3 linked regions of the Homo sapiens genome follow. The protein of the gene in region 2 purifies or fractionates together with the protein of the main gene of each other region. This does not show direct contact. Each region holds a gene or a part of one and is shown on either strand. Other genes may lie near its edges.

Region 1 (7,107 bases), on a different chromosome or scaffold from region 2:
CGTGAGAACAGACTAATACAACATCTTTCCATGTGCTTATTGGCTATTTTCATATCTTCTCTTCGGAAATGCCTATTTAGATCCTTTTCTATTTTTTGTTATCTTTTTAATTGTTGTAAGAGTTCTTATATTTTTAAATAGATCTTTAAACACTCCTTATTCTATAACATCTTTGATCTTTAACATATCCTAAAGCTCTGTAAACTGCCCACCCTGTCACCTTGCCTCATTGATTCAGTAGGTCAGTTGTGCTCTGCACTGTCAGGTTTATTAAATGAATTAAATGCCACCTGCTTCCAGGAGCACAAAATAAAGTAGGGAGGGAAGCACCAGAGTGATAAGTTTCTATAGATGTTCAGAGGAAGAGGAGATGACCTTCAGCTGGAGGAATCAAGGAGGACAGCCTGATGGAGGAGGCATTTTAAGTGGTTTTGCAGGATGTATGAACTTAAATGAGAAGATTGGGGGAAGAACAAGTTCTCTGTGGAATGGTGATGAGTCTAGTTTAACTTACTGGGCTGAAATTTTCAGGGCTCATAAAGAGGAATACTAGGAATAAAAATGAGAAAGGCAGTTGGGGTTTCGAATGCAGAAGAAGTCTGCAGTCACTGGATATCTGGGGTGAGGATGGGCCAACATGCTGAGAATGGCGCTTTGGAAGATGGAATTCACAGAGCTGTGGAGGATTGGGGGTGGGGGGTGGGCGTGGGGGCGCTTTGGAAGATGGAATTCACAGAGCTGTGGAGGATTGGGGGTGGGGGGTGGGCGTGGGGGCGCTTTGGAAGATGGAATTCACAGAGCTGTGGAGGATTGGGGGTGGGCGGGGGCGTGGGGCGCTTTGGAAGATGGAATTCACAGAGCTGTGGAGGATTGGGGGTGGGGGGTGGGCGTGGGGGCGCTTTGGAAGATGGAATTCACAGAGCTGTGGAGGATTGGGGGTGGGCGGGGGCGTGGCGGGCGATGGAAAGCAGCCCTGCGGGGTTTCCATCTCAGAGACTGAGATGCATTAGAAGACAGAAAGGCCTGTAGTTAAACTCCTGTAAAAGTTGTTCAATCTCACGGTTTCCAAATTTATTTGACCCCAGGGTCACCCTTGTTTTTTTCGATGAATAACATCTGAGGTACATACCTTGAGTTTTGCTGTCTTAGTTCACCATTACACAAGTAGCAATTTCTTTGTAAATGTTGGTTAGTTGGTTGGTCACTTGTTGATCATAGAATTGCATCAGTAATTCTAAGAGCTGGAAAGAACATGACACATTAGCTAGTCCAGCCCCTTGTTGTATGGAGGGAGGCCCAGAGAGGGGAAGCACGTGCCCAAATTCACCCCATCCTAAATAAAGGAGGAGTCAAGATTGCAATGCAAGTGTCTTATCTCCCAGAACAAATGTCTGCTTCAGTTTTACAAAAATAATTTTAACCCCACCACACATACAACAGTTACCACTCTTGTCTAACATACAAGTGTTGGGTTAAGGCCATCTAGGGAGGGGCCCCAAAGATGCATAAAGGCACATAACTGAACGGACCTGTCCCTGACCTTATGTGCGGATTCTTTTCCTTTGCTGTAAGCCTTGTGTGAGGCTGCACAGTCTTAGGATGAGGCGTTGTCTGATTGCAGAGGCCATGGGTTCTTGCCTCCAGCTAACCTGTTAACTGGAGGATCTTGGGTAAGTCACGCTATGTTTTGGGGCACAGCTTCGTCATCCATCAAATGAGGCAAACCGTGCTTCCTGGGCTCCTTCCGGCGCCGGCAAGCTGAGATGCTGAAGTACTACAGCACGCATTTACCACCGTCTCCCCGGGACCTGGTGGAGGCGTCTGTCACAGTCCCTGGTGAAGGACACCTGGAGTGCCTTCATGGGGCCTGTAGCCCCAGCCCTGGTCCCACCCCCACCCGTGGGTTAGAAATCTCCAGTGTTTTCTGAGGATTCTTGTGGAATTTTTTTCGATGTTAGACATCAGTGATTCAGTCTTAAAGATAAGCACTGCATCCGTTGGATGAACTTAAAAATGCAAACAAGCACGAGAATTTTTACTAGGATGGAAACTGGGGAGGGGAGTGGGAATGTTGTTCTTAACCCAAGGGTTTTGCTTTCCGCGTCACAGTGTATGCTGGTGGAATGAGTGACGGCTCCTTTTTTGGAGTGATTTCAGTCTGTTGCTGTAGTGGTTGTTTTCCATAGCAACTCTTGTTGCTACACAGCTGGCATCTGATGAAATGATGACCACAGTTCGGGGGTCCAAGCCCGAGGACTCCTCATCCCCTCGCATCCTGCCAGGGGTGTTGAGAAACCCTGGGTGGAGAGGAGGGTCAGCTGGTGCCATTTTGATGAGGTTTGATTTGCAGTTGCTGCGTTCCTGGGGGTATCATCAGGGCTTCCCAGAAAGTTAGCTGGGCTTGGGCTTCTGAAGCTTTCCCTTGGAAACACCCTCTTCTCTCTTTGTGGAGGAGGAAGTATCACAAATAACGGAGATAATTAGAAAGGATATTTTTCTAATTTATGAAGGTATAAAGATGAGCACTGCTTTTTTTGTTTTTTAAAATGAAAATTACTAAATAGGGAGTATAGGCCAACCAAGATCATACTGAATTTCTGAGTGTGGCAGGCCAGCGTGAGGCCTGTGTTTTAGGTATCTCATTTAAAATGGAAAGTTCCAGTTTGCTTTGGGGCCAGAATCCTTAAAAGAAATCCTGGCTGGAGGTGTATTATGGGTCACTGTATATTTGCTAGTTTATATCTTGCTGAGTAAATTGGCCAAGTTTTTATTTTTCCTGGTAAATATTCAGAGGGTTTTTCCTCACTCCTTTCTCCAACAAAATCATATTTGTCATATGTGTATGAAGTAAATGACTGTTAACACTGTCCACACATCTGTGATGATATGAAAATTAGTGGTGGCAAACAAAGATTCCTTTTCTTAGGTACCACAAGGCCTCGGATGAAGTTGACTTTATCCTCGTATTACTCTCAAATTGTGACCAAATGGAAAGAAAATTGGTCAGGTCCGAGAGACCAAAATGTACAGCACAACAAAAGGGTTATTATTTGTGAAAAATTTAGGTGCTCCCCCCATGTGACTTAGAAAGTTTGAAGTTTTCTCTTAAAGTAATCATTCGTCTTTATAAAGTTTAGAAGGTACACAAGCTTTATTACTATGAAAGGCTATGCTTATTTTAATTCACAGCGAGGCACAAAGTGATTGCCTAGTACAAAACCTTTTAAAATAATAATGAAAAACGCCAAGATGTCAAATCAAATGGAAATGTGGACCCTAATTTGATTGCCTAACTTCGAAACATGTTTCAGAACTGCACCTACCCACGTATTATGCTTGCGATAAGTTATATGCCGAAGCTTTGTGCTGATAATATTTTAATGTGCAATATTTAGCGTACTGTAAGAATTAAACATTTATTTCCCATTAAACGATGTATTTATATTTCTTTTAACTTTCGGTACAAATGTGTGAACTGTTAGCCCACACACTTTCCTCATTCTTTTAAAAGAAATTAAATACCAAGACTATATTAGAAAAAAAAAACAGAACAAGCAGGAAAAGTGAGTTGGGCATAGTGGTTTCATGAATGCAGTGAGGTCATTCTCCTATCTGTATCGAGTGGAATACCCACACGTGAAAAGACCTTTGGTGTTTTAAATTAACTTTTGAAATTGTTTACAGAAAATGCTTTTTGCCTCCCCCCTGCTATTTTATTGCAACTTTTTATTTTAAACTCTACCCTAAAGAGTGACTGTGCTAGAAAACCACGTTGATGTAAAATGTCTCATGGTTGGCAGCTAACCACACTCAAACCATGTTCAGAGGATGGCAGGCGGCCCCGTCCCATTGCCAAAAACTTTCCACTGGGAGTAGTTTTGTAAGGGGCTGGCTGGGCGGGCGGGGAGCCTGGGGGACTGAGATGGGGGCCTTTCTCCTGCTTAGTGACTACATCATCTCTCTCTGCGTAGGCGAAGCTGCTCTCAGGGGAGAACCCAGAATACAGACCCTGCCGGTGGCCTCTGCCCTCAGCAGTCACCGCACCGGCCCTCCCCCAATCAGCCCCAGCAAGAGGAAGTTCAGCATGGAGCCAGGTGACGAGGACCTAGACTGTGACAACGACCACGTCTCCAAAATGAGTCGCATCTTCAACCCCCATCTGTGAGTTCCTCTGTTCTTATTTTGGCTTAAGGGTGCTCCGTGCTGGGGCCTTATTTGTTTTGCAACTTTGTGCTAATTCTGATGTTATCATTTGCATACTTTATTTGAAAAGGATATTATTTACAAAAGAAAAATAGTATTCATCTGCCAAAAAGAAGGTAGTAAACTCATTTTGATAACTCGCGGTGAGGTGGAAGTCTGGCTTCCCTCCAGCCTACTTGTAGGACCTTCCGCATGTTAAACTCCATAGAAGTTAATGTCCCCTTAGAGCTTCTGCGAGCAGTCGAGTAGTCATCTGCTAAGCTTCGCTTTTTTTTGCCCATACATATTGATTGTTTTTAGGAGAATCAACATTTAGTGAATGTCACTGTGCACCAGACAAATAGAAGGGAAGCTCAGCACCTTTTTGACCAAGCAGACGTCTGTAAAGTTCTTACTCAGGAGTCTAGGATTGTACACACGAAGAAGTGTTCATCCCACCTTATGTGCCCCTGGTACAAACTTGGGACCTTCCCATAAAGGGAAGCCAGCTTCCTATGCTCATGACAAGGTGCCACTCACCACATCCAGCCAGTCCTTGATCTGCCACTGACACTGTCTACCTTCTTGACATGAATTGCTTCAACTCTTTGGGCCTCAGTTTTGTTATTTGTGAAACACGGGCTGAAACCACAGATCCCTGAATCTGTGCAACGTCACCATGTTTCCACTGGAAAAGCCTCCCGCTTCCGTGCACCCGGCTTCTCCCCTTTGCACTCTCCTCTCGGCACACACCCTCCTCGCAGAGGGAGAGGCTTCTCCCCAGTTTTCAGGACTTGGAGACGCCCCACCAGCTGCCCAGAGAGTCTACGGGTACAGTGGTGAGGGCGGTTGGTGTTCTTGGAGTTATCTTGCCAATCCTGGCAAGGTTGCACTGAGTATTGGAGGGAGTAGCTTTGTGTGTGCAGGTACAGAGGTCCTCCTCCTTCCCCCTTCCCAAGCGCTCACTCTAGCATGAGTCAGTGTTTCCTCATTATTCAAGATGCTCCAATTCCTGAGGGCACTGCTTTTTCCCCACAGGAATACCTTCCTGTGAGGGCTCCTCCTTGGAGGCAGAGTTTCCGCAGAGAGGTGGCCCAGCTCCCGCCTCTACTGCCTCAGCTCCAGCGTCCTCGCATTCCGCTCGTTCCAGTCAGCTTGGACTGTTGTGTTCAGTCATAAGACACTGACAGAGGTATTTATCCTCAAATAAATCACTGCAGTGTTAGTCAGAGGCTGAGCCTGCAGTCTGGAGCCCTGGAATTTGCTACCATCAGGAATCCAGCAGGAAGGCCCTGCAAACAGTGCACTCCGCAGGCAGGGCTAGCTTAACTCCTGGGTGCTCAGCTCTTGCAGTTCATTCTTTTATTCCCACGAATTTCTTATACTTTCCCATCTGCTTTTCCCAAACCCAAATAAGAACATTTGGTCTTTTTTTTTTTTTCTTTTTCTTTTCATAAGTAAGAAAGGGGAAGGCAGCCTGCAGACAAACATGCCTTAATTTAAATCCTGATTCTGCCACACAACAGCTGTGAGGCTTTGGACAAGTCACTTAATTTAGCTGGGCCCAGTATCCTTGACAGTGATATCCTTGTCATTGGACAATGACAATGACAATGATAATAGTTAATGTATAGAGCTATTACGAGGACTAGAGTTAAAATATGCAAAGAGCTTGGCATGGTATAGCACTTTGTTGATGGGGGTTGTTATTTTTATTCCATTGTTCAGATACTGGTTATGATGATAGAGAGTAAGAAAATATACATATGTATATATGGTGGATTTAATGTTTGATAGTATGTGCCTTTTAATCAAAATGCCTGGGTTCAATTCCCACTTTCTTTATCTTTCATCACAGATAATATTAATTCCTTCCTCATAGGATTATTGTAAGGACTTAAGAATGGTGCCTGGCAGATAGTAAGTACTCAGCTTTAGTCATTGTTAATATTATTATTAGAATATTAAAATGTTCAGAAAATAATTTTGTGGCTAGGCGCAGTGGCTCACACACCTGTAATCCTGGCACTTTGGGAGGCCAAGGTGGGTGGATCACCTGAGGCCAGGAGTTCGAGACCAGCCTAGGCAACATGGCAAAACCCTGTCTCTACTAAAATTACAAAAAACTAGCTGGGTGTGGTGGTGCATGCCTGTCATCCCAGCTACTCGGGAGGCTGAGGCATGAGAATCACTTGAACCTTGGAGGCAGAGCTTGCAGTGAGCCGAGATCGCGCCACTGCACTCAGCCTGGGTGACAGAGCGAGACTCTGTCTCAAAAAAAAAAAAGAAAATAATTTTGTAGCTCTCTTGGTGGCTAAAAATAAGACTTTGAGGTACGGGTCTGTGATGACACTATAAATAATTTTAAGTGTAAATAATAGAATCGCCAAATTTTATGTGCAAATCACAATTGACATTATTATGCAAAGTTTTAGGAAAATAGAAACAGGAGTAACCTCCTCTCTCAGACTCCCTTACACCAGCCAGGTGACTCCCCCCTCATTTTTCTTTTATTGTGGTAAAAAATATATATATTATAAAATGTATTTTCTTAAGTGTACAGTGTAAGGAGGAAAGGCGATTGGCGTGTGGTTAGGTCCTTCTGAGTGTTACTTGTTTACTGTGTGATAGTTATTTTAGTAACATTACCATTGTTTGTACTGTGTTTTCTAAGAGCCTAATGACAGATTTCACAGGCAGATTGGAAAGATGCTGCCTGTCTTACTTCTTCGTGTTGTAGGGTATTTAGTGCTGCTGTTTGATGAAATGTTTCCTATTTGGGCTATAGCATGCTCCCTCCTTTATATTTAATGCCTAAGAAGTTATCTGCAATAAATGACAGATTCATAATTATTTGAAAAGGAATAGCCTAGTGTATCTCTTTAAGGAGATTACAAAATGGTTTTTGTGCTTTATCTTCTTAGA
Region 2 (7,231 bases):
TCCCCTTCCCTAACAGTTCCTGTTCTTGACTTGAAGAGAATTGACCCGTGGGGGACTCCCCACCTCCCCAACCCAGACTTTGGAGCGGGTGGGAGTTGTAAGACAAATCAAAATACGGATGACAAAGAGGATATAGCCGTGTATACCCCAGGGAGAGGAGGCGCCGAGTTCTGATGGGAGAGGTACAGGTTGGGTTCTCTGCCTACCATTGCTGTCTCTGACTTCCAGAGCTCAACCCCCTCCTTTCTCCCAGTGGTGACAAGATATCAATAAACTTATTTTTAATACAATTACTTGAGGCTCTGTCTGAGACAGGCCTGGGGGACCAGCACCTACACCTGCCCCGCCCCCTCCACAGGCAGGCAATTGGGAGGCTGGTGGTTTTCCAGCTTTTTTTTTTTTTTAATTCTTAAAGCCATCAAGTCTTGTGTTTACATGAAATCTTATTCCTACTCTTCCTTTAGATACCAGTCTAAATGTCAACTCCAGGAGAAAGTCCTAGATTCCTTCCCCAAGGCTAACGTGGGTTTGCCTCTTAGAGTCTCTTTCAGTGTCCTGTGGTTCTTTTTCTTTTTCTTTTCCTTTCTTTTCTTTTCTTTCCGTTTTTTTGAGATAGGATCTCGTTCTGTTGCCCCAGCTGGAGTGCAGTGGCATGATCACAACTCACTGTAGCCTCGATCTCCCAGGCTGAAGCAATCCTTCTGCCTCAGCCTCCCAAGTAGCTGGGACCACAGGCATGTGCCACCATGCTCAGCTAATTGTTTTATTTTTCTAGAGATGGGGTTTTCTATGATGTCCAGGCTGATCTGGAACTCATGGGCTCAGGCAGTCCTCCCACCTCGGCCTCCCAAAGTGCTAGGATTACAAGCATGAGCCACCACACACAGCTGGGTTCTTTTTCATAGTGACTCTAAATGAACACAGGCCTTTATCTATTTAAGGCACATTTGCCCATAATGTCATGAAGGCAGGAACTGGTTCTTTTACTCTGCTGCAGGGCCAGGTAACAAAGTAGATAATCACCACCACTCTGGACTCAAGACGTGGCTCAAGTACTGGTGCTGCCCTGGCCAACTGTGTAACCATTGGCTTCCAGTGTCCTCATCTGTAGAATGGACATAAAGATGTCAGAGTCTTTCTTCCTATAATTAGATTATACTTTTCTTTTTTTTTTTTCTTTTTTTGAGGTAGAGTCTCCCTCTGTCGCCCAGGCTGGAGTGCAGTGGCGCGGTCTTGGCTCACTGCAACTTCTGCCTCTCGGGTTCAAGTGATTCTTCTGCCTCAGCCTCCCAAGTAGCCGGGACTACAGGCGTGTGCCACTACACCTGGCCAATTTTTGTATTTTTACTTATTTAGTTAGTTTTTTGTTTTTTTGTTGTTGTTTTTTGGTTTTTTTTGAGACGGAGTCTTGCATCTGTCCCCCAGGCTGGAGGTGCAGTGGTGTGAACTCATCTCCTGGGTTCATGGAATTCTCCTGCCTCAGCCTCCTGAGTAGCTGGGATTACAGGTGTGCGCCACCACACCTGGCTAATTTTTGTACTTTTTAGTAGAGATGGGGGTTTCACCGTGTTGGCCAGGCTGATCTCGAACCCCTGACCTCAAGTGATAGGGCTCCCAAAGTACTGGGATTATAGATGTGAGCCACTGCCACTGTCCGGCCTAATTTTATTTATTTATTTTTTTTTTATTTTTATTTTTTGAGATGGAGTCTCACTCTGTCGCCCAGGCTGGAGTGCAGTGGCTCGATCTTGGCTCACTGCAAGCTCCACCTTCCGGGTTCACACCATTCTCCTGCCTCAGCCTCCCGAGTAGCTGGGACTACAGGCGCCCACCACCACACCTGGCTAATTTTTTGTATTTTTAGTAGAGACGGGGTTTCACCGTGTTAGCCAGGATGGTCTCAATCTCCTGACTTTGTGATCTGCCTGCCTCGGCCTCCCAAAGTGCTGGGATTACAGGCGTGAGCCACCGCGCCCGGCCCCCTAATTTTTTAATTTTTAGTAGAGACAAGGTTTCACCATGTTGGCCAGTCTGGTCTCAAACTTCTGACCTCAAGTGATCCGCCCTCCTCGGCCTCCCAAAGTGCTGGAATTACAGGCATGAGCCACTATGGCCAGGAAAGCTTTTCCTGACACACATTCCCCACCGCAGTCATCACAAATTTTAGTTCATCATTTGAGTAAATTTACTATCTGCCTCCATCACCAGGCTGGGGCTTCTCAGGGGCAAGGCTTAAAGCCTGTCTCAGTCACTGCTATGTCCCCAGCATTGCCCAGCATGGAAGAGGGGTTGAATATTTGAATAACTGTCCAGCTTAAAAACAACTTCCATTTGTGGCACTTATTTTCTGTGCCAGGCACCAAGCTAAGCATTTATATGCATGTTTGCATTCAATCTGAAGGTACCCAAATAAAAGGAGACTGGAGGGGGTCTCCATTTTTTCCAAGAAGTTTAGAAACTGGCCCAAGGCCACAGCTGGTCAGAGGCCAATCCAGTCCACCTGAAGGCTGAATCTGGCCAGAAGCCTTAACTCCCATTAGTGTTTCGTAAATAATAGCCCAAAGGCAACTTTAAGTGACATATTAATGTCCTCTTGAATGAGTCGATAGTTTTCACTAATTTTTTTTAAGGTAACCACAGTACATGAAACCCATGATTGTGAACGTATTACCTAGGATGAGGCAAAAATAGATAAATCTTTTTATTTTTATTTATTTTTTTGAGACAGGATCTTGCTCTGTTGCCCAGGCTGGAGTGCAGTGACGCAATCATGGTTCACTGTAGCCTGTTATCTCCAGGCTCAAGCAATCCTCCCACTTCAGCCTGATAAATCTTTTTTTTAAGGGAGAAAAGTGTTCAAATACAGGTAGTAGACAAAATTGTGAAACCATTTTAAAATTGTGAGGTCTGGGTAACAGAATCAGAGCTGCTGCGGTTCCAGTGGGACGGGAGGAGAAGGGACAAGCAGCCCCTCACTAGACAAAACCAGGGCCAACTGGTACGTCATTCAAATATTTTTGAGCACCTAACACGGACCCAGGCCTAGAGAAAGGGGCTGTTGTGGGTTGGAACCTGGAGACCCGCCTCCGCCCTTCCCCAAAGACAGCCTCGTCCAGTTCCCAATGCCTGGGAAAGAAGAAGGGTCCTCACAGCCTGATTGGGCCTTCCAGGTAGTGAGCGCTCAAGGTTGGGGAAAGGTTGGTCTGGTGTTTGCCCTTCCCCAGCAACTCCCTCCTCTTGCCCGTCACTTCTTAACCCCTTACTCTTCCCTCAAACTGGGGAGCAACAGAAGATAAGGGTCCCCCAAACGCCACGCTCCGAATGCACGTAAAGAGCCCCCAGAAAAGTGGGGGGGCGGGGGGTAGCCGGGAAAGTAGCGTGAATCTGGAAGGCCTCCCCAAACCTCCCAGAGGGCGGAAGTGCGTCACTATGTCCGACCCGCAGTGCATTTTGGGAATTGTAGTGAAGCGGGTGGGGGACGCCGAGCCCCCGATGGTGTAACCCTTTAGAGACCAGAGCGCGCGGGCAGAGCTGGGACAGGGTTAGAGGGCGGCCAGTCGCCCCACTCTTTTAGCAGAGAAACAACTGAGACAAGGCTCTGGCTCGGAAGCCCTTAGTCCTCTCCCTTCTCTGGCTGTGGCGGGCCCCAGAAGCATATATCTAGGATTCCGGGGGGAGGACGAAGTGCCAGGTGGCCACCCCCACCCCCACCTAGTTGCCAGCTTCCCGTCCCTGCTCTGAAGCCAATCAGGGCTTCTCCGCCCCGCCCCAGAAGCTGCTACTTTCCTAATCCGTCATTGGCCCACCTTTGCTGGGCGGGGAAACTGAGGTTCAGAGAGGGCAAGACATTTTGCCTAAAGCTGCACAGCAAATCCGAGCAGAAGTTGGAAGCCCGGAAGCCTGTCCACCCACCCCCACAATTTCTGAATCCGGAGTAGCTCTGATCATTTGTATTGCATCCTCGCCTACCACCTTTGTGTCCCAGCATCTTGCGGCGCGCTGAACTCCGGCCCCACGGAGAAGGTTGTAAGGTTTGCGCCGGCAGAGGCGACAACCCCCCCAGCCCGCGTCTGCCCGCCGTTCCCTTTAAGAGCCGGCCCCGGCGGGACTACGTTTCCCAGAAGGCTTTGCAGGCGTGTTATGTAACTTTCCCTGCGAAGCGGCCTCTGGGGCAGAAGAAGGAGGTGGAGGCGGCGGCGGCCGTTGCAGCGGCGGCGGCGAGAGCGGCGGGAGCCCGAGGCGGCGGCGCTCGCGGCCCATCGTGGGGCCCGAGCTGTGCGCCTCGGCTCGGAGCCCGGACCGGGCGGGGGCGCCGACGTGCCTCAGCCTGCCTTCGCGAGGGAGGCGGGAGTGAGCAGAAAGGCTTAGGGCCCAGGGGGCGGGGAAGGGGGGCCGGGCCTGGATCCGGCGGGGAGGCCGAGCCGGAGGCCGGACCGTGGCTCGCGCTGTCCCCGGGACGCGGATCGAACGTTGGCGGCGCGGATCGCACGTCGGCGGCCGGTGGAACGCGGGAGCTGGGCGGCGCGCGGACTGGGGCCATGGCGTCTGTGCAGGCGTCCCGCCGCCAGTGGTGCTACCTGTGCGACCTGCCCAAGATGCCGTGGGCCATGGTGTGGGACTTCAGCGAGGCCGTGTGTCGCGGCTGCGTGAACTTCGAGGGCGCGGACCGCATCGAACTGCTCATCGATGCCGCCCGCCAGCTCAAGCGCAGCCACGTGCTCCCCGAGGGCCGCTCGCCCGGGCCCCCGGCCCTTAAGCACCCGGCCACCAAGGACCTGGCGGCGGCAGCCGCACAGGGGCCCCAGCTGCCGCCCCCGCAGGCCCAGCCCCAGCCGTCAGGGACCGGCGGCGGCGTGTCGGGCCAGGACCGCTATGACAGGGCCACATCATCAGGCCGCCTCCCCCTGCCCTCGCCCGCCCTGGAGTACACTCTGGGGTCCCGCCTGGCCAATGGGCTGGGCCGTGAGGAGGCCGTGGCTGAGGGGGCGCGAAGGGCCTTGCTTGGCTCCATGCCTGGCTTGATGCCCCCTGGGCTGCTGGCAGCTGCAGTGTCTGGCCTGGGAAGCCGAGGCCTGACGCTGGCACCCGGCTTGAGTCCTGCCCGTCCCCTCTTCGGCTCCGATTTCGAGAAAGAGAAGCAGCAGAGGAATGCGGACTGTCTGGCAGAACTGAACGAGGCCATGCGAGGCCGGGCAGAGGAATGGCACGGGCGCCCCAAAGCAGTGCGGGAACAGCTACTGGCGCTGTCCGCCTGCGCCCCGTTCAATGTGCGCTTCAAGAAGGATCACGGGCTGGTGGGGCGAGTGTTCGCCTTCGATGCTACTGCCCGTCCTCCAGGATACGAGTTCGAGCTGAAGCTCTTCACCGAATACCCCTGTGGTTCCGGCAATGTGTACGCCGGCGTCCTGGCAGTGGCTCGCCAGATGTTCCACGATGCTCTGCGGGAGCCGGGCAAGGCACTGGCTTCTTCGGGCTTCAAGTACCTCGAATATGAACGCCGGCATGGATCAGGAGAATGGCGGCAGCTGGGCGAGCTGCTTACCGACGGCGTCCGCAGCTTCCGCGAGCCAGCTCCCGCGGAGGCCCTGCCCCAGCAGTACCCAGAGCCGGCCCCTGCGGCTCTCTGTGGCCCACCCCCGCGAGCCCCATCCCGGAACCTGGCGCCCACGCCGCGCCGTCGCAAGGCATCCCCCGAGCCGGAGGGCGAGGCGGCTGGGAAGATGACCACCGAGGAGCAGCAGCAACGGCACTGGGTGGCACCCGGCGGCCCGTACTCCGCTGAGACCCCTGGTGTGCCCTCGCCCATTGCCGCCCTGAAGAATGTGGCCGAAGCCCTGGGCCACTCACCCAAGGACCCTGGCGGAGGCGGGGGGCCTGTGCGTGCAGGGGGCGCCAGCCCTGCAGCCTCCTCCACGGCCCAGCCGCCAACCCAGCATCGCCTTGTGGCCCGCAACGGCGAAGCAGAAGTCAGTCCCACAGCGGGGGCCGAAGCTGTCAGCGGGGGTGGCAGCGGCACTGGGGCGACCCCTGGGGCCCCCCTGTGCTGTACCCTGTGCAGGGAGCGGCTAGAAGACACCCACTTCGTCCAGTGCCCCTCGGTGCCCGGACACAAGTTCTGCTTTCCCTGCTCCCGGGAGTTCATCAAGGCGCAGGGCCCGGCCGGGGAGGTGTACTGCCCGAGCGGAGACAAGTGCCCGCTGGTCGGCTCCTCCGTGCCCTGGGCCTTCATGCAGGGCGAGATCGCCACCATCCTTGCTGGAGACATCAAAGTTAAGAAAGAACGGGACCCCTAGGCTACCACTGCCTCCAGGCTACTGCCCTCTGCCCCTTTGCCACCCACCGCTGCCGCGGATAAATTATTCCCTCCCCGACCCAGCCCAGTGCCACCTCTATCTGTGTACATACTCCCTTCTTCCACCCAGATGGGTCCCCTGGGGTAGATGCATTGTGGGTGGGGGGAGAAAGCTTGTGGCTCCTGTCCGAGGGGGTGTTTGGGGTCCCTTGGCCCCTCCAGTTTCCCTCTGTCCTCCTTGGCTTGGCTTTGCTGCTGCTTGTAGTTGGGGGAGAGGTGCCCCCCTCCTCCTTGAGAAGGGACCTCCTGAAAACTCGCTCTTTATAAACGAGGCAAAAGCATTTAATTCCCACCCCCCCACCCCCCGCTCCCTTCTGCTCCTTCAATAAACCGAAAGATGGGTTTTTTTTTTCCTTCTTGGTCCCTTAGTTGTGTGAGATGCTGCGCCCCCTTTGGGACTGAACTGGTCCTGCGAGGGCGAGGACGTTGCGCGGTAGCCTCCAGGTGGCGCCCTGCACCCAGGCGGTCCCGCCGGCCGACCTTCAACAAGTGCGACCCACTGGTCACGTTTCAGCCATCGGCCCGTTTTCCAGATAAAAGTACTGAGGCTCAGAGAGGGGATGGCTCCTGCAGGGGAGCCACAGACAGGCTTGGGAGTAGATTACCCTTCTGTAGCTGACCCATCCCCTATCTCTACCTGGAAGGTGGAGGACTCAGCGCCTACGTGGGGAGGGGAAAGAGGCAGCGGGAGGCTTCCTAGAAGACATGGGCAGTGGGTTCTTGCCGGGTAGAAGGGAGAATTTAGGGTAGACTGCTAGAGGGACTGCCCGAGGAAAGAGGAAATTTACCTCCACGGGGTAAACTAACAGGATGCCTAGAAACAACTTGGCTACTTCTTGCCTCTGGCGGTGCCCCAGAGGCGGACGTTTGGGAAGCCCC
Region 3 (7,012 bases), on a different chromosome or scaffold from region 2:
CCGCTAAGTTTCCTGTGCTCGCTCAGAGCTCTGGAACAGGGAAACCCTTGGAATCCTGGATCAACAAGACACCCAACACAGAACAGCAGACTCCTCTTTTCCAGGTAAATATGTACCAGGGGCAAAATAAAACAGCCTGGGCAGCATAGCAAGATCCTGTCCCTAAAAAAAAAAAAAAAGTAGCCAGGCTTGGTGTCACACGCCTATAGCACCAGCTACTGAGGAGGCTGAGGTGGGAGGATCCCTTGAGCTCAAGAGGCGGAGGTTACAGTGAACCATGATCGTGCCACTGCACTCCAGCCTGGGTGACAGAGCGAGACCCTGTCTGTTAAGAAAAAAAAAGACAGACAAAGAAAAAGGTATTACTATAATGCAGTGAAATGTAGAGTCCACTTCCATGCTCTAGGGACCAATGTGTCACGTACATTTCTGTTTGGAGCAGGGTGCACCTCCGTGCATCTTGATTGCCTGAACTTTCTACCTGGAAGGAGAATCTTCACTTTGGTTAACAATCTGAGAACTTCCCCCAACCTTTTTGAGAGCATTACTTGTAGAGTTAAATCTTCGTTATATTAGGAGGTCTGAAGACCAACACAGACATGGGAGAAAACCGTAATTTTTGACTGTAGGAACTTAGTATGGTCTGCCTTGAAATCAATCTGGAATGCCAAGCAACTGACCTCCTCTTGTTTTTCAGTCCACAGTAAATTATTCACTTATTTAGTAAATATTTTTGAGCACTTACTACATGTCAGGCATTGTCTACATGTGGGTACATAATGATGAAGAAAACAGACTCCTTACCCACAGCCCATGCTGTAGGTTCTTGAAATAAACAAAAAACAGCCTATTTCCTCCTGAAAGGTGCAGCCAGTTTTTATCTTTCTCTGTATCGTCAGTATAGCCTACTGTAGATCAGGAGAGGTATGCATGCCACCCACCTCCACCCCCCACACAAACTGCCAGAGAGGGAAAATATGACAGTTTTTAGAAAGATTCTCTCCTTTAGAGAAGATGCTTTTCCATGTCCATCACTGACTTGGGACAGTGAGGAAACCACAAGCTATTGATCATCTGCCTGTGGGTAACATCTGGAGATCTGACATTGAATTGTTTTCCCTTTGGATTGGAACACATTCATTGAAAGTACATTGGGTTTAAAAATTGGAAAGTTCTCCCTGTGTATCACATATATCATCACTGGCCCTTTGTCATGTTTTGTTATGTACCTTTTTTTGTTTTTTGAGACAGAGTTTCACTCTTGTCGCCCAGGCTGGAGTACAATGGTGCGATCTCGGCTCACTGCAACCTCCACCTCCCGGGTTCAGGCGATTCTGCTGCCTCAGCCTCCTGAGTAGCAGGGATTACAGGCACCTGCCACCACACCTGGCTAATTTTTTGTATTTTTTTAGTAGAGACGAGGTGTCACGATGTTGGCCTGGCTGGTCTCGAACTTCTGACCTCAGGTGATCCACCCACCTCGGGCTCTCAGAGTGCTGGGATTACAGTCGTGAGCCACTGCACCTGGCCTGTTATGTAACTTATAACAGTTTCTCAAAAATCTTGAACTTTTGGCTGGGCATGGTGACTCGTGCCTGTAATCCCAGCACTTTGGAGGTTAAGATAGGAGAATCGCTTGAACCTAGGAGTTTCAGACCAGCCTGGGCAACATAGACCCTGTCTCTACAAGAATTTTTTGTTTTTAATTAGCCGGGTATGGTGGCATGCCACTGTGGTCCCAGCTACTTGGGAGGCTGAAGTGGGAAGATTGCTTGAGCCCAAGAAGTTGAGGCTGCAGTCAGCCATGTTTGCACCACTGCACTCCAGCCTGGGCAGTAGAGTGAGACCTTGTCTCAAAACAAAAAATTCAGTTTTTTGAAAACAAAGACCTTAGGCATGTGCCAAAAGTCTTTGTGAGCCCCTGAGTCAAAGTGTTCTCATTTATTATTTATTAACATCCCAAATCTGAGTACCGACTGCTATAGAAACAATATTTATAACTCCCACTCCCCCTCATTTCAGTGTTATTGTCCCTTTTTTAAAAATGTCTGCTTTTTTCCTCTTTGATGATTTAGAATTAGAAGCATGCGATGAATATAGTCTGACTTAAATTTCTGATGTACAACTCCCTTGACTTTTCAGTACTCACAAATATCAAGAGCCGAGTGAGAAAGGCAAGCATTTCAGCAGCCCACGCTGTGCTCAGAATGCTTGACTCCACCTCCGGGAGCATCACTGCTCAGCACCGCTCCTCGAAATGTCATGTAGGGACAAGTTAAAAGAAACAGCCTGCCTTCCTCTAGGCCAACTTTTGCTCAAAGAGACGCTAAGGGATTGATTATAAAATTACAGCAACTTCTAGCTTGCTGGCCTCCTTGCCTCCCTCTTAGGAGTTCTTTCGGGGAGTTCGGAGGCTGATAAATAACATTCTTTTTCTTCCCTGAGTTAGAAGCAAATGATAGCTGTAGGAGTCAGTCAGATAAGGATCAAAATGTCACTTGCATAACTGAAAGGGCTGTTAGAAAACTTGGTTTCAGGTCTGTTTGCCAAGGGAGTTAGACTCAGCAGACAGGCTCTGGCAGGGCTGAGCAACAGGCCGCCCGGGTCAGCCCAAACACATCAGCTGCGGAAGCTGAAGATGAGGGCTCTCTGCAGGCAGGCAGATCCTGTCAGGGAAGGACCCAGAAGGGGTGGACCCACACATCACTCTCCCTCCCCACGAGAAGTGAGTGAGGCCGCAGGAGGGGCGGGGAGTTGCTCTCACAGCGCCTCCTGTGCTCCGGGGTCAGGAGGGGAAATGGGGAGGCCCCTAACAAGGGTGGCAGCTCACATAGGTTGTGAGACCTTTAGGTCAGGGTCATGGACAACCAGGTCTAAGGAAAAGGTCAGTAGTCCTAAATGCACTTGCCAAATACTGGTAGCCTGAAAAATAAGCTGTCACCCAGAGGCCAAGCTGCATATGCAGTGGAAAGAATAGTCCCCACAGCAGACGATACCAGAGCTGCTCAGTGATGCTGAAGGAAGGTGCATGGAGCAGTGGAGCAAGAATCAGTTTCCCATAAACTTTTCTCAGCTAGGAAAGCTGTGGACAGGGAATGCTTAGACCACCCGTATCTGCCGCTGCAAGCTATCATGCCGTGAGCTGCTCCTGAACCCCGCTCTCTGTGTGTATTTGCTGTGAGCAGGTCATCTCACCTCAGCGCATCCCTGCTACAGCAGCTCCGTCTCTGCTTATGTCCCCCATGGTGTTCGCACAACCCACCTCCGTCCCGCCAAAGGAAAGGGAGAGCGGCCTCTTGCCTGTGGGAGGCCAGGAGCCACCTGCTGCTGCCACCAGCCTCCTCCTGCCCATACAGAGCCCGGAGCCCTCCGTGATCACCAGCAGCCCACTCACCAAGCTCCAGCTCCAGGAGGCACTGCTGTACCTCATTCAGGTAAGCAAGCACGTCATCTCCCTTCGCACCTGACCACGCCTGTTGGCCTCCTGGCTGCAACTATGAGATAAAGACTCAGCCAAGGCCTGCTTAGCTTCCGTGAGAATAACAGGTGTGTGTAACAACTCATCCTGACCCCAGCGGCTTCTGTGCTCAGTTAGCTAGGTGTTATTTATAATACCAAGTGTGGCTTGGGTGTCTCAGCTCTTCAAGGATTTTGTAATTTGAAGGACTGTCTAAGGCCTCCAAGCTGTCACCTGTCAGAAGAGAAGGAAGCATATGCTGGGGATTAAGCAGTCCCTGAGAGGACCCTGGGTGCTGGAGGCCCAGACAGAAAACTCACCATTGGGAGGTAGAGGTGGGAGCAGTCCTGGGCAAGGGGCCATCTGTTGAGTGGGGAAGAGGCCACTGAGCGAGTGGAAAACAGGGAGGGAAGCAAATAATGGCCATGGCTGCTACAGGTATGTTTTACAAGTCATTTTGAAACCTGCTCATTAGGACGGGATGGAGTGACAGGACTCCTTGTGAGCTGCTAGCCTCACTTGCCTATGAAATTATGAAATAATAATGAGTGCTATAATAGCTAACACTCCACAGAGCTGGCGCCGGGCCCTATTTTCAGTGCTACACACAAGCATATAACTCATTCACTCCTTACATAACAACCCTGTTATTTTTCCCATTCTACAGACAAGGAAACTGAGGCTGAGCAACTGGCCTGAGGCACGGAGCTCGTACATAAGCAGGGCTGGGATGCACCCAGCCTGGCCCCCGAGTGCCACTTCCCACGTACTCTCCCGTGGGCCACGTTCACCACATGAATGTTGGCAGGGACCAGCCTCGGGAGAACATTCAGCACAGGTGCCCTAGCAAAGCACACCCAAGAAATCAACGGCAGTCCTTGAAAAGTGGAACATTTGTAGCCAGACAGACTTCAGACACCCCAGTTAACATATTTAGGTGTCTTTTTGGTAGATAATCTTTAAGAAAACTTGTGTGGTACTTTGCTTAAGCATCAGACGGCCTTTAGAGAGCAGGCCAGCCCTTCTGCGGTTGTCTTATCCTACTTAAAAAGACAGTGGTCTCAATTAGTACAACATTTTTAAAAAGGTTCCATGTTGGCCGGGCACAGTGGCTGCTCACGCCTGTAATCCCAGCACTTTGGGAAGCCAAGGTGGGAGCATTGCTTGAGGCCAGGAGTTCAAGACCAGCCTGAGCAACATAGCGAGACTACAAAAGAAGGAAACATGTTTGAGGAAGAATGAAAGGAATGGGGCTAGAAGTCAGCAGAAGCATAATAACAATCAGAGATAAATAAGGTCAACAGCAAATGATTGAGCCCTACTAATTCATAAGTAAATATCAGGATAAAAATATTTGCCACCTTTTAAAGCTATTCATAGTAAGCTCAGGAGGAATTAGACATCTGTGAACCTCTTTACTTTGAGCCAGTTTCTTAAGTTGTAATTTAAAAGATCCATATGTTTTCTGGCTGATTCCCTTCACATTGTCTTGAGACTCTACTCCAGAGTAGTGGCTGAACATGGCGGATTAGAAATTACATTCCCCTGCCCTCCACTCTGCGTGCATTTTACTTCTTCCCGTGTACCACACCTCATATTCCCAGTCACTCAAGCAGTCTGTTTTTAGTTTCTGCCTCTTGTTAGGACACAATCTCATGCAGAGGAACTTTGTGACTACTTTGCAGGAAAAAGAGGGATAACATCACTCTCTTCATTGCATGAGAATGATGCTAAATCTGTGTGGGGTGCCAAGAGGGAATGAAGGGGGAATGTGAAGTGTGGGTGAATTACTAACACTGTAAAGAATTTGGGTGGGAGGGAGAAGTCTCTAGAATTAAAACATGAGGAAAACCACTGATTAGACCGTGATTCTCACTCCTTAGCCAGGCAAAAGAGCCCAGAGATTACCAGTCTTACTCCTGCCCACTTGCCAAGGCTAGAAACTTTCCATAACTTATGGGAAGACTTATATTAGCTTTGATGAAGTACTGATGAAGCATATTGCAAGTAAAATCCTAAGTAATGCCCAAAACAAAGCAGACACATTGTAGGTGACTTGGAGGGCCTTTAAGAACCACAGTGGCTCATGCCTGTAATCCAACACTTGGGGAGGCCAAAGTGGGAGGCTCACTTGAGCCCAGGAGTTCAAGACCACCCTGAGCAACATAGTGAGACCCTGTCTTAACAAAAAACTTAAAAGCCAGGCATGGTAGCACGCACCTGTAGCCCTAGCTACTCTGGAGGCTGAGGTGGGAGGATCGCTTGAACCCATGAGGTTGAGGCTGCAGTGAGCTATGATGGCACTACTGCACTTTAGCTTGGGTGACAGAGTGAGACCCAGTCTCAAAAACCCAAAAAACAAGAAACAAAAAAACACACCACAGCAATCTCTTAACCAAACTTTGAGACCACTGACTTGGATCATGTCCTCCTAACTCCTCTGTCTGCTGGGGCTTCATGTCTTTTCATGCAGCAGACCCAGGCTGTTCTTGAGTAAACCTTGCTCCATGCTGCCATGTGTCTGGGCTGCCCATCTGTGCTGCATGTAATGAGCTCTTGCTGCTGTGCATACTGACCATGGAAAACCATCAGCTCTGTCCGGCCTTGCCGTCAACCCCACTTAACATTCACACATGCAATTAAAAACCACCAGCTGTTAGACAGGGAGAGATGAGTGTCTCAGTATCCAAAGGCCAGTTCAGCTCTAAGACAGAGGAAGCCTTTTGTGTCTGCCAACCAAGTAACATTCTCTTGGGTCTTTCGATTTGTTTTCCAGAATGATGACAACTTCTTAAATATAATCTATGAAGCCTATCTCTTCAGCATGACTCAAGCAGCCATGAAAAAGACTATGTGACAGCAAGGCCTTTTAAAACTGATTTTCAAGGTCCTTCTAGAACTCCGGCACAAGGTTCTTTCATGTTGAGTGTTGTTTCCTTCAATGTTTCTGCCTTTTTTAAAAAAAAAGTATGTGTAATATGAAGTAAAATGTTTCAGACTTTTTTTTATACTCAAGTGTTTTTTAATTATTATTATACTTTAAGTTCTGGGGTACATGTACAGAACATGCAGGTTTGTTACATAGGTATACACATGCCATGGTGGTTTGCTGCACCCATCAACCCATCATCTACATTAGTATTTCTCCTAACGCGCTTCCTCCCCTAGTCCCCCACCCCGCGACAGACCCCAGTGTGTGATGTTCCCCTCCCTATGTCCGTGTGTTCTCATTGTTCAATTCCCACCTGTGAGTGAGAACATGTGGTGTTTGGTTTTCTGTTACTTTGTTAGTTTGCTGAGAATGATGGTTTCCAGCTTCATCCATGCCCCTGCAAAGGACAAGAACTCATTCTTTTTTATGGCTGCATAGTATTCCCTGGGTGTATATATGCCGTATTTTCTTTATCCAGTCTATCATTAATGGACATTTGGGTTGGTTCCAAGTCTTTGCTATTGTGAATAGTGCTGCAATAAACATACGTGTGCATGTGTCTTGATAGTGGAATGATAATCCTTTGATTATAGTAGAGTTACAATCCTTTGGGTATATACCCA

What was found.
Region 1: the proteins of IRF2BP1 (region 2) and VGLL4 purify together in Homo sapiens (affinity purification with mass spectrometry; 4 studies listed by BioGRID and IntAct, with this or other methods). This does not show direct contact.
Region 3: the proteins of IRF2BP1 (region 2) and DCP1B purify together in Homo sapiens (affinity purification with mass spectrometry; 2 studies listed by BioGRID and IntAct, with this or other methods). This does not show direct contact.

Annotation. Positions count from the first base shown.
Region 1 is NC_000003.12:11,598,887-11,605,993, reverse strand, and holds part of VGLL4 (transcription cofactor vestigial-like protein 4), read left to right. Parts: intron 1-1,412; exon of another isoform or gene 1,413-1,670; intron 1,671-3,971; coding exon 3,972-4,161; intron 4,162-7,107. UniProt on the Homo sapiens protein: May act as a specific coactivator for the mammalian TEFs.
Region 2 is NC_000019.10:45,883,082-45,890,312, reverse strand, and holds IRF2BP1 (interferon regulatory factor 2-binding protein 1), read left to right. Parts: upstream 1-4,171; 5' UTR 4,172-4,538; coding exon 4,539-6,293; 3' UTR 6,294-6,705; downstream 6,706-7,231. UniProt on the Homo sapiens protein: Acts as a transcriptional corepressor in a IRF2-dependent manner; this repression is not mediated by histone deacetylase activities. May act as an E3 ligase towards JDP2, enhancing its polyubiquitination. Represses ATF2-dependent transcriptional activation.
Region 3 is NC_000012.12:1,945,508-1,952,519, reverse strand, and holds the end of DCP1B (mRNA-decapping enzyme 1B), read left to right. Parts: coding exon 1-104; intron 105-3,185; coding exon 3,186-3,434; intron 3,435-6,233; coding exon 6,234-6,314; 3' UTR 6,315-6,467; downstream 6,468-7,012. UniProt on the Homo sapiens protein: May play a role in the degradation of mRNAs, both in normal mRNA turnover and in nonsense-mediated mRNA decay. May remove the 7-methyl guanine cap structure from mRNA molecules, yielding a 5'-phosphorylated mRNA fragment and 7m-GDP.